Linked DNA regions of Homo sapiens: region 1 is linked to region 2. The links come from fine-mapping of genetic effects on gene expression. A gene starts in region 2. The other region holds a variant in brackets. All regions are shown on one strand. Distances are from middle to middle.

The links. PIP is the estimated chance that this variant, and not a neighbour inherited with it, causes the effect.
Region 1: its variant is the best candidate, but not a certain one, in a credible set for the expression of PTER in testis (GTEx, PIP 0.84).

What each region holds. Positions count from the first base shown.
Region 1 is chr10:16,477,029-16,482,405 of GRCh38, reverse strand. The region is part of intron 1 of PTER (phosphotriesterase related); the gene reads right to left. Among named protein-coding and RNA genes, the nearest start is that of C1QL3, 42 kb to the left of the region's middle. The variant G/C (reference allele first, on the strand shown) is at 2,506.
Region 2 is chr10:16,433,719-16,439,095 of GRCh38, reverse strand. It overlaps PTER (phosphotriesterase related), which reads right to left and starts at 2,086. Exons shown (of 5, transcript NM_001261836.2): 1 at 2,049-2,086. RefSeq lists enhancers at 1,492-1,541, 1,562-1,741 and a silencer at 2,162-2,211.

The DNA of each region.
Region 1 (5,377 bases), 43 kb before region 2:
CACGTATATCCTAGATTATTTCTTTTCAGAGAAAGTGGCTGATGAGAGGGGAGATGATTTGGGGGAACAAAGGGGAAAATTTGTGAAGGGTATAGTACACACGTAAGACAAGGTGAAAACAACATCAGAGGTCAGAGGGTGACAGAATTGTAGGCCAATTTATAGCAAGCCACTGCAATTATCTGGAACTCAGGTGTTTGCGATATATTGGCTTATAAGGCATAAATGATGGATTTAGACTTTTGGACAGAACTTAGGACTTGTGGCTAACATGGCCATTGATTTTGTTTGATAGTGCCTTTCTGGAAGCCAAACTTCTATCAGCTAGGCAATTCAAATGGTGGCTAAGAGAAAAGCAGGCAGTGTCTCTTCAGAGAATCACCACACAGCTGCCAGGCACTATACAGGGCAATATTTTCCAATGATGATGGATAGGAATTTACTGTTCAGTGTCTTATTCCTTGCTACTGAGAGCAAGGAGTGTGTAGTTCATGCCTTCCGTTGATGAAATCACAGTACCATTAATAATAGATGCAAGCTTCCATATGGGTTAATTTGCCGTTTCTTTCCTTCTGGCTGACCATCTTACAGACGTGTTCCAGAGAGTCACAGAGGGGCAGAAACTGAGCTAAATTGATAAAATGCTACCACTTTTGCTAGAAAAGTACCAAACTGCATATTCAATTGATGCATATTTGAAAGAGCAATGTTGGTACGTTTCAAGCTCACAAGCTGTGAGTCTTTCTGAAAAAAAAATCACTTAAGAAATGTCATCCCTTCTGGGAGATTCCTCTAATGCTCTCAGGCAGAACTGGCTGGCACTTCCTATGATCACACACAATGTAACCTCCACTCAAAGGATAAGAAACGATTAAAGAACAAACTGTAGCCAACATTGCTCTAAGCTGGAATGTCTTTGAGTGGGGTGGAGTGTGTATCTAGAATACACGCTTCCTGTGCAGGGAGGGAGCCCTTTTCCCTCTGCATTCAGCTTGGAGGTTGCTCTCTTCTCAACATACAGGCAAGAGGTTATTCATGGCCTTCCCCCATAGAGAAGAGAGTTCACAGAACAAGGAAGAAGGTAAGGAACGATGAGAGCAGCTATACCCAATGGTGCAAACAGGACTGGTTACCAACAAACAAAGCAGGCTTCTGGCATTTTCCAGAGTATGCCTGAGAGGCTTAAGCATCACTCACATACACCGGCACAGAAGCTAGTGAGAAAGTGGGTAGCCAGAGCTACAAACACATGGGTCAAAAGTTCTGTTGCACTTCAAATGTGAAATTTGAACAATCTGAGGACTGAGGATAGACTGCAATTACTATTACAGCCTAGCCAAGGGGAACAACATTTCTAATTCTGATGCATCTAGAACTGAAAAAGCACAGAGGGTTTAAAGACAAAAAATAAAAGGGATAAGAGAAGAGAATCAGAGGACAGTCCTCCAGCACAGCTGAAAGCCAGAAACGATAAATAGGATTTGTCTTATTTAAAATACGCATGTTTAAAATATGTGTATTCTAAAACCATATGCATAAATCAACTTCTACAAAATACTTAGACAATTCACCTAATTGTTGAAGATTTGGTGTGCAGGACGGTAGTTTGGGGGCAATTTTAGTTTAGTTTCACTGAGAGTTCCTCACAGCTATTTCACCCTGGCCATTATACTTAAGATGATTCCGTCTATGTAGATTGAATATATTTTTCAGTGGCATTTTGAATTGCAGAGGGTAGGACTTTCCAGGACTCTATTTTACCTGTGAATGAGGAGAGCTTCTCTTAACTGAAATACACTGTCCTTATTTCATAAACATAGGCTCTTCTCCCACCCCGGACTCTGTTATACCCAGCCCTTGACCTGGTTGAAGGTACTCGTCTAACAATTTTAAATGCAATGGTCAAATTAGGTCAGGCACAGTGGCTCACACCTGTAATCCCAACACTTTGGGAGGTTGAGGCAGGCAGATCACTTAAGGCCAGGAGTTCGAGACCAGCCTGGCCAGCATGATGAAACCCTGTCTCTATAAAAAATACAAAAATTAGCTGGGCCTGGTGGCACATGTCTGTCATCACTCGGGAGGCTACTCGGGAGGCTGAGGCAGGAGAATTGCTTGAACCTGGGAGGTGGAGGGTGCAGTGAGTCAAGATTGCGCCACTGCACTCTAGCCTGGACAACAGAGCGAGACTCTATCTCAAAAAAAAAAAAAATGCTATAGTCAAATTACAAAACTGAGTTTTGGTGGATCAGTTTTCAGTTGACTTTCCCAACTCCTCCCCCAACCATGAAAGGTCTAATTCTTATCATACATCCCTTGTTTCATTCTACTCATAGTATTAGGTTGGTGCAAATGTAATCACGGTCTTTGCCATGACCGTGATTACATTTGCACCAACCTAATACTATGAGTAAAATGAAGTGATGGTAAAAACCAGAATTATTTTTGCACCAACCTAATAGTTTGGTGGCTCTGAAGAAACCCTAACTGACAAAAAAACGGGAA[G/C]GCATCTCAGGGTTTTTTGCAGACAATATGAAGTGAAGAGCCTGGCAGCCGTGTACGAATGGATGAAGGGAGGGGGCCCGTTGTACCTGCAGGGAGCCCCATAGGATGTCGCTATTATCCAGAAAAAATCAGGTAGTGTCTTGTCTGAGATGACACCAGTGTAGATGGCAAGAAACCAGAAGCAGTAAGAGGCAGAGCAGATGGAACTTTCTAACTGGACTTGCTGGTACTATAAAAGTATCCTCCAAATAAATGGACTTCTAAGAAAAAAGTGCTGTCTGGCCCAAATAGATCAGCACTTCTATTTTTTGAAGTGTTACATCACAGAGCGCGGCTGCACTCTAGAAACACTGCACTTAACACTGACATTTGATTTGTCACAAAAATATTTTTTAAATGCATCCTTTTTTTTTTTAAAGCTTGTTTGAATACTTCCATTGTGCATACAGGTTCAGACCTGCAATATATCTTCTTTGAAGCAGCCTGGGCCTGGACACTGACCAACGGTGACACCAGGAGTCCCTCCTTGGACACAGTCATCATGCTTCTACTCTCTCAGCTATTTATGGTGTAATGGCCCTACTGCATGTGCATTTATAACTTTTAATATTAAACACTGTCAAAAGAATCAGTAACCATGCCTGAATGAAAAGAAAGAAATCCCACCACTTAAGGATACAGAGCAATAATGGGACCCAGCAAGTTCTTTAAACTGTGACATAAATAAAGCAAAACTGCTCAGAGACACAAATGAGCAGCTTGTCGTTGGAGGAAAATGTTGGGTTTCATTCCCAAGCTTTCCTTTTTTTTTTTCAAATTGACTAAGAATGTAAGAAGAAAACCTGAGGAAATGTGCAAATTCTAAACAATTACGAGGACTATGGCAGTGACGAACCCAGGAAGTGACAGTGCTGGGAAAAGGCCTTTGCAGACAGGTCAGCCTGGGAAAGGTCTCCTCCTCTGGGTCAGCTCAGGCTTTTGCCATCCTGCATTCCTTGATGTGAGGTGTTCATCTTAAACTGGTAAGTAAATCCATTGAAGCCATTTGAAAACCCAGAAAACACATCAGACTCCTTGAATAAAAAAAATCGGCTTGTGGCTTCATTAACTCTTCAGTTTAACTTGGGCCAGTCAACCTCAAGTCACCAGGGTTGAGCAGATGGCCTTTGTGTAGACTGTGGTCTACAAACTTGTAACTGGTACCAGTGGCTTCCCAAATTTCTCTGTTTAGTGGCCAACTGAAAACATTTTTTTTTTTTTTAAATGGGGCTGGGCACGGTGGCTCAAGCCTGTAATCCCAGCACTTTGGGAGGCTGAGGCAGGCAAATCACCTGAGGTCAGGTGTTCGAGACTAGCCTGGCCAACATAGTAAAACCCCGTCTCCACTAAAAATACAAAAATTAGTCAGCTGTGGTGGCAGGCACCTGTAATACCAGCTACTCAGAAGCCTGAGGCAGGATAATCGCTTGAACCCGGGAGGCGGAGGTTGCAGTGAGCCAAAATCGTGCCATTGCACTCCAGCCTGGGCAACAAGAGCAACACTCCAACTCCAAAAAAAAAAAAAACGGAAACGAGGGAGGAAAAGGGAGAGGGAGGAAGAAAACAGTATTTCAACCCAGATCGAAGTGCAACATTACTCACTATAGTAACATCCTAGAGTTGGGACAAGTGCAATATTATTGTCAAGACACTGTCGGAATAACTGACCTTTAAATTTTACTTAATTTGAAAAACGAGATCTCATCTCTGCCCTTTTCATTCTCAGAAGGTTCCACACTCAATGCCTTGAGAATGTTTGATGTAAAATTCTTGATTTTACTAGCAACATATATTCCTGAGAGTGAAACATACACCAAGTTATTTGAATACAATGGTTATCACCTGCTTTTCTTCATGAAGAACTCTCCACGTTGAAGTCTGTCCTCTGCTTTTTCTACAGGGGATTTTCTGTCCCATGAAACCCTAGTCATAGGTTGCCTCCCAGAAACAGTGATACTTTGAGCCAGCTGCACAACTGGTCTTTAGCTGTATTTGATCAGTAAAGCACTTAAAATTTGTATTACTTTTAAGTCCTGGCAAACTACAGACAAATGTTTTAAACATGTAAAATATCTATATTCCTCTCATAGTTTCATCTGGAAGGCTATTCTTGAGGTGGTGTGGTCTAGTTGGTAAAATGATGGGTTCAGAGGTAAGAATCCATGGCTCTTCACTAAATAGCTGTGTGGGTTTGGGCAACTTGGTTAACCACTCCACACCTGTTTTTCCCATCTGTGAAATGAAGGGGTTGACCAGATAACTTCCAGATGGCATCCATGCATCAGTGATTCCTTTAGCTTGAAATGGATATTACTGACCACCTATAGATCACTAACAAACAATGAAAGCTATACTTGCACAATGGATTTTTAAATGTATATTTTAGGCTGGGCACAGTAGCTCACGCCTGTAGTCCCAGCACTTTGGAAGGCCGAGGTGGGTGAATCATTTGAGGTCAGGAGTTCAATACTAGCCTGGCCAACATGGTGAAACCCCATCTCTAAAAAAAAAATAAAATAAAATGTGTATTTTACATGCATGTGCAGACAGACAGACATCCATCTATCTATCTATCTATCTATCTATCTATCTATCTATCTATCGAAAGACAGAATGAATTTCCAGTTCACATCCTTCAAAGTTTAAAAGAAAACTCTAGGCCCAGCATGGTGGCACATGCCTGTAATCCCAGCACTCTGGGAGGCCAAGGCAGGCAGACTGCTTGAGCTCAAGGGTTTGATACCAGCCTGTGCAATATGGCCAGCCCATCTCTACTAAAAACACAAAAATTAGCCAGGCATGGTGATGTGTGCCTATAGTCCCAGCTACTTGA
Region 2 (5,377 bases):
AAAACTGGAAGACCCTCTCAATCTATTCTGGTTTGAGGGCTGCCCAATTAAAAAGGAAAAAAACTGGCCCAAAATATCATTAAATGGTAAAATCAGGATCTTATCCTCATAAATCCATAGATTATTACATCCACTAGCGACCTAGAGACCACTTACCTTTTTTTTTTTTTTTTTTGAGACAGAGTCTTGCTCTGACACCCAGGCTGGAGTGCAGTGGTGTGATCTCAGCTCACAGCCGCCTCTGCCTCCCAGGTTCAAGCAATTCTCGTGCCTCAGCCTCTCCAGTAGCTGGGATTACAGGCATGCCCACCACCATGCCCAGCTAATTTTTTGAAGAAAAGAGGTTTCACATGTTGGCCAGGCTGGTCTCGAACTCCTGGCCTCAAGTGATCCACCTGCCTCAGCCTCCCAAAGTGCCGGGATTACAGGTGTGAGCCACCGCGCCTGGCCTGAGACCACTCACCTTAATGTGTCTAGAAAACAGGCAGGCCAGGCGCAGTGGCTCACGCCTGTAATCCTAGCACTTTGGGAGGCCGAGGCAGCCAGATCATTTGAGCCCAGGAGTTTGACACCAACCTGGACAAAATGGCAAAACCCCGTCTCTACCAAAAATACAAAAAAAAAAACAAAAAACAGAAAATAAAAACTAGCCGGGCGTGGTGGTGTGCACCTGTGGGAGACTGAGCTGGGAGGATCACTTGAACGGGGGAAGTGAAGGTTGCAGTGAGCTGTGATAGCACCACTGCACTCCAGCTTTGGTGAAATAATGAGACCTAGTCTTAAAAAGCAAGAGGCCGGGCGCGGTGGCTTACGCCTGTAATCCCAGCACTTTAGGAGGCCGAGGTGGGTGAATCACAAGGTCAGGAGTTCGAGATCAGCCTGGCCAGTATGGTGAAACCCCGTCTCTACTAAAAATACAAAAATTAGCTGTGTGTGGTGGAGCGCGCCTGTAGTCCCAGCCACTCAGAAGGCTGAGGCAAGAGAATCGCTTGATCCCGGGAGGCGGAGGTTGCAGTGAGCCGAGATCGCACCACTGCACTCCAGCCTGGGCAAGGGCGAGACTCTGTCTTTAAAAAAAGCAAAAGAAAACCAACTTGTAGAAAGTCACTGAGCTGGAACCAGAACTAGAATAGGGCTCTACTCTTTCTGGGTCCAAAGTTCTTTAAATCAGCAACCCCTCTTACTGCCTATGTAAGGGTATACCTTTAGTTCCTGTTGACTTGGGATGTACAAAGAATGAGGTAGTCTAAGAGAGTAACAGCACACTGGCTGTGGAGTCAGAAAGACTCCACCTCTAAACTTTGTTTCCATCTCTAAACTTTCCAGCAGTGTGGCCTAATTTTTCTGTACCTTAGCTTTGTCGTTATCACTAGAATCCTTCACAGGGCTGCAGAGTGGATTAAGCAAGAGTGCACAGGACTCAGACATATGACCGCTGGTAATTGGCTTTTATAAACTGTCAAAAAATATAGACCTGTAATGCCAGCACTTTGGGAGGCCGAGGCAGCAGACTGATTGAGCCCAGGAGTTCGAAACCAGCCTGGGCAACATGGCGAGACACTCTCTACAAAAAATACAAAAATAACCGGACATGGTGGCACGTGCCTGTAGTCGCAGCTACTCAGGAAGCTCAGGAGGCTGAGGCAGGAAGTTCGCTTGAGCTCAGGAGGTCGAGGCTGCAGTGAGCTGTGATCGCGCCAAATGCACTCTAGCCTGGGAAGCAGAGCCAGACCCTGAATCTAAAAAAAAAAAAAAAAAAAAGCTTATTAAAGGAGGCTTAGCACAGCTACCCGATGACGCCCCCGGGCATTGCTGTCGAGCCACAGGGAGCTGGCGCCACACGGGACTGGCGCTCTTTGCAACGTCCCTCAAGCACTTAAGGAGAGGCGGCAGGGCCCAAGCGCAGCGGCTAGAAAATCCTTCCTTCCGGCAGGACCCTCGCGTGGAGCTCTGCAGCGAACCCTGGCCGCGCGGCCTCCGCCGTCGGGCCCCACTCTTCCTACTGGGCCCACAGTTCCGGCTCCTGCTCTGACTCCAAGAAGCCTTACCTCGGGTACAACGCGCTGCCTTCTCCCTGGGAACTTCCGGCAGGCCAACTTCCCTGGCCTTTTTAGTCTCCCCTGTGCCCTCCCACTTCGCCCTCTGGTTCTCTCCCCGCCCCTGGCCCGAGGTCACGCCCTCACCGAGTCCTAGGACACGCCCCGTGGGTCCTTGCCAAGCCCTACCTCTTCGTAGGACACGCCCTTCAAACCCTTGCCACGCCCCACCCTGGTCCGGGGCCGTTCCCCGCGTTTTTGCCTGGCCACACCCTCCTGCAGGCGCTGTCTGACTGTCGGTAGTTTGGCTGAATGAAAAAAATTCGGGGCTAGATCCCCAAACGGAAAGAAACTGTTGCATTTTCCCCAGATCCCAGTTCTCCATAGAACAGTCTGGAACAAGGGAGCATTCCGTAGCTCTTTTGGTTTTCCCCAAGAATAAATCGGAGGTGGTGCTCTGGCAATTTGATGTCACAGTGGGTTCTGGATCCTCATGCTGCATACGGAGAACTTTGGTTTTTGTGTTCCCACTTGTCACTGTTTCCTGCCCCGGTGCCGCGTTTCCTTCTCTTTAGAATTAGAGTGCCGTGCTAGAGCACTTGAACTGGCCCTGGTACTTGCTGTGACTGAAATAAACTTAGTATGTGTGAGTCTGTTGGCAAAACATGATGCTTGGAGCAGCTGCCACAGTAAAGAGTCATACCTTTAGGTATTGTAGGGGGCCAAGGGCAAACCTCTCCTTCGTCCTCTGAAAGTTTGCTGAAAATCAACTGACAAAAGACAGTTTCACAGTAGAAAAGGCATACAAATATACTAGATCGTAACTTTATGTGATCCGGGAGCCTTCAGAATGAAAACCCAAAGATGCAGGGGAAACGGTCCATTTTTTCGCTTAGGTTCAATAAAGTATGGACCGCCATGTATTCAGCTGGTGCAAAAGTAATTGCGGTTTTTAATGGCAAAAACCGCAATTACTTCTGCACCAACCTAAGAGATACTACGATGGCATAAAAAGGGTCTGAGCTAATGCCAATAGACTAAGTGAGCAAGCCCTGTCTGTTTAGATTCTTTTTGGCTTTTCTGTGCAGTGTTCCTTCCTTCTGGGTATAGAGCAGGATCCTTTCTGGAATGGGGGTCTTATGACCTACAGTCAAACAAAGCAGGGCAGAGAATTTCTTTACCGCCAGTTTTGACACAGAAAGGCAGGGGACACGCAGAGTCAAACTTTTAGGTTTTATGCTTGGCTTTGGGGATGAGGGGTTCTGGCTTCTGTGAATCACCTTGGGGAAGAGGGATTCCAGTTTCTAGAATGAGGGGCCAGAGGCAGGAGGACATGAGGTTAGAGAGAGCTGCTTCTAAGGCCTTCATTTTGGGGTATCATTTTCTGAACCCCAACCATATTACACTGTCATCAATTATTATTATTATTATTTTGAAATGGCTCTGTTGCCCAGGATGGATTTCAGTGGTGCAGTCATAGCTCACTGCAGCCTTGAACTCCTGGGCTCAAGGGATCCTCCTGCCTCAGCCTCCTGAGCAGCTGGGACTACAGGTGTGCACCACCACACTCAGCTAATATTTGTAATTTTTGTAGAGATGGAGGTCTCGCTATGATGCCCAGCCTGGTCTCAAACTCCTAAGCTCAAAGGATCCTCCCACCTCAGCCTCCCAAAGTGTTAGGACTACATGCATAAGCCACAGCACAAGGCCTAGTCAATTAATTTTATCCTGAATTCTGAGAAAAAAGAGAATAGGTATGCAGATGGGCAGAAGCTACAGATGTCATTTCAAAGGAAAGTAGAGTTTTAATAATAATATTAATAGATGATGTTTATCGGGGCCAACTCTACCAGGTTTTGTAATGGGTGTATGTTATTTTGTTTAAGATTTTGAGCAACCTGCATGTGGCAGGAGCTATTTCCCTCCAATTACAGACAAGAAAACAAACTTAGGCAAGCACCTTGTTCAAGGATAGGACTAGGGACCCAGATTAGTTGATATCAGTCACTACACTTGCCTTCTTAGTAAAGAATGGGGAATTTTTTTGGTTTGTTTGTTTGTTTGTTTTTGAGACAGAGTCTTGCTCTGTTGCCCAGGCTGGAGTGCAGTGGTGCAATCTCACCTCACTGCAGCCTCCACCTCCTGGTTTCAAGGGATTCTCCTGCCTCAGCCTCCTGAGTAGCTGGGATTACAGGCACGCCCCACCATGCTCAGCTAATTTTGTGTAATTTTAGTAGACATGAGGTTTTGCCATGCTGGCCAGGTTGGTCTCGAACTCCTGACCTCAACTGATCCACCTGCCTTGACCTCCCAAAGTGCTGGGATTACAGGCGTGAGCCACCGCACCAGGAGAGAATGGGGTGCTTTGATAGGAGATTAATAGAAATAAATTAATTCATTTAAATCAGAAAAAAAGGAGGAGAAAAGGATATACAGGTCTCGTTCTCTGTTTTTTGTTTTTTAAGGGTAAAAGTACAAGAAGTCATTTAGAAAAGGGGTTGGTTGGTAAGGGACAGTCAGGGAGAAGATACTGAGGAAAAAATTGGTTCTTAAGGAGGGTGGCTGGGTAAATCCTAGAAACAGAAAAGGGATAAAAATAGGGCCCAAGAGTAGGAAAGACAAGAATAACTGTAGGGGTTAAGAACTGCAGAGGCATGAGTGCTGGGACAGTTGGATATTAGTAGCAATGACGGGCTCACACTGAGATTCTGTAATGAGGAGATGGATCCAGGGAGGCTTCTGGAGTGATTTCAGTGCTGGCTCCCACTTTGTGTGTGCTACAAGCATGGAGCCATATAAATGTGTACCCGACAGTGGGTGGTAAGGAGAGGCTCGAAAGTCCATTATTTATAATGTTACGTATTTTAGTAGTCTATGCTGCTAGATGTTAAATGATACATGAGGTCCTTGTTAAAAAATGACTTCAGGCCAGGCGCAGTGGCTCACGCCTGTAGTCCCACCACTTTGGGAGGCCAAGGTGGGCAGATCACTTGAGGCCAGGAATTGGAGACCAGCCTGGCCAACATGGTAAAACCCCATCTCTACTAAAAATACAAAAATTAGCCGGGTGTGGTGGTGCATGCCCGTAGTCCCAGCCACTCAGGAGGCTGAGGCATGAGAATTGCTTGAACCTGGGAGGTGGAGATTGCAGTGAGCTGAGATCATGCCAGTGCACTTCAACCTAGTGACAGAGAGAGACCCTGTCTCAAAAAAAAAAAAAATTGAAAAGTAAACTTTAGTTTTTCTTTATGGAAGTTACTAAATTCTCCACTGCCCACAGTAAATCCACTGAGCAAGATTTGTGATGGATTTCAAATGCACGCTCTTATTTCTGTGGCTTT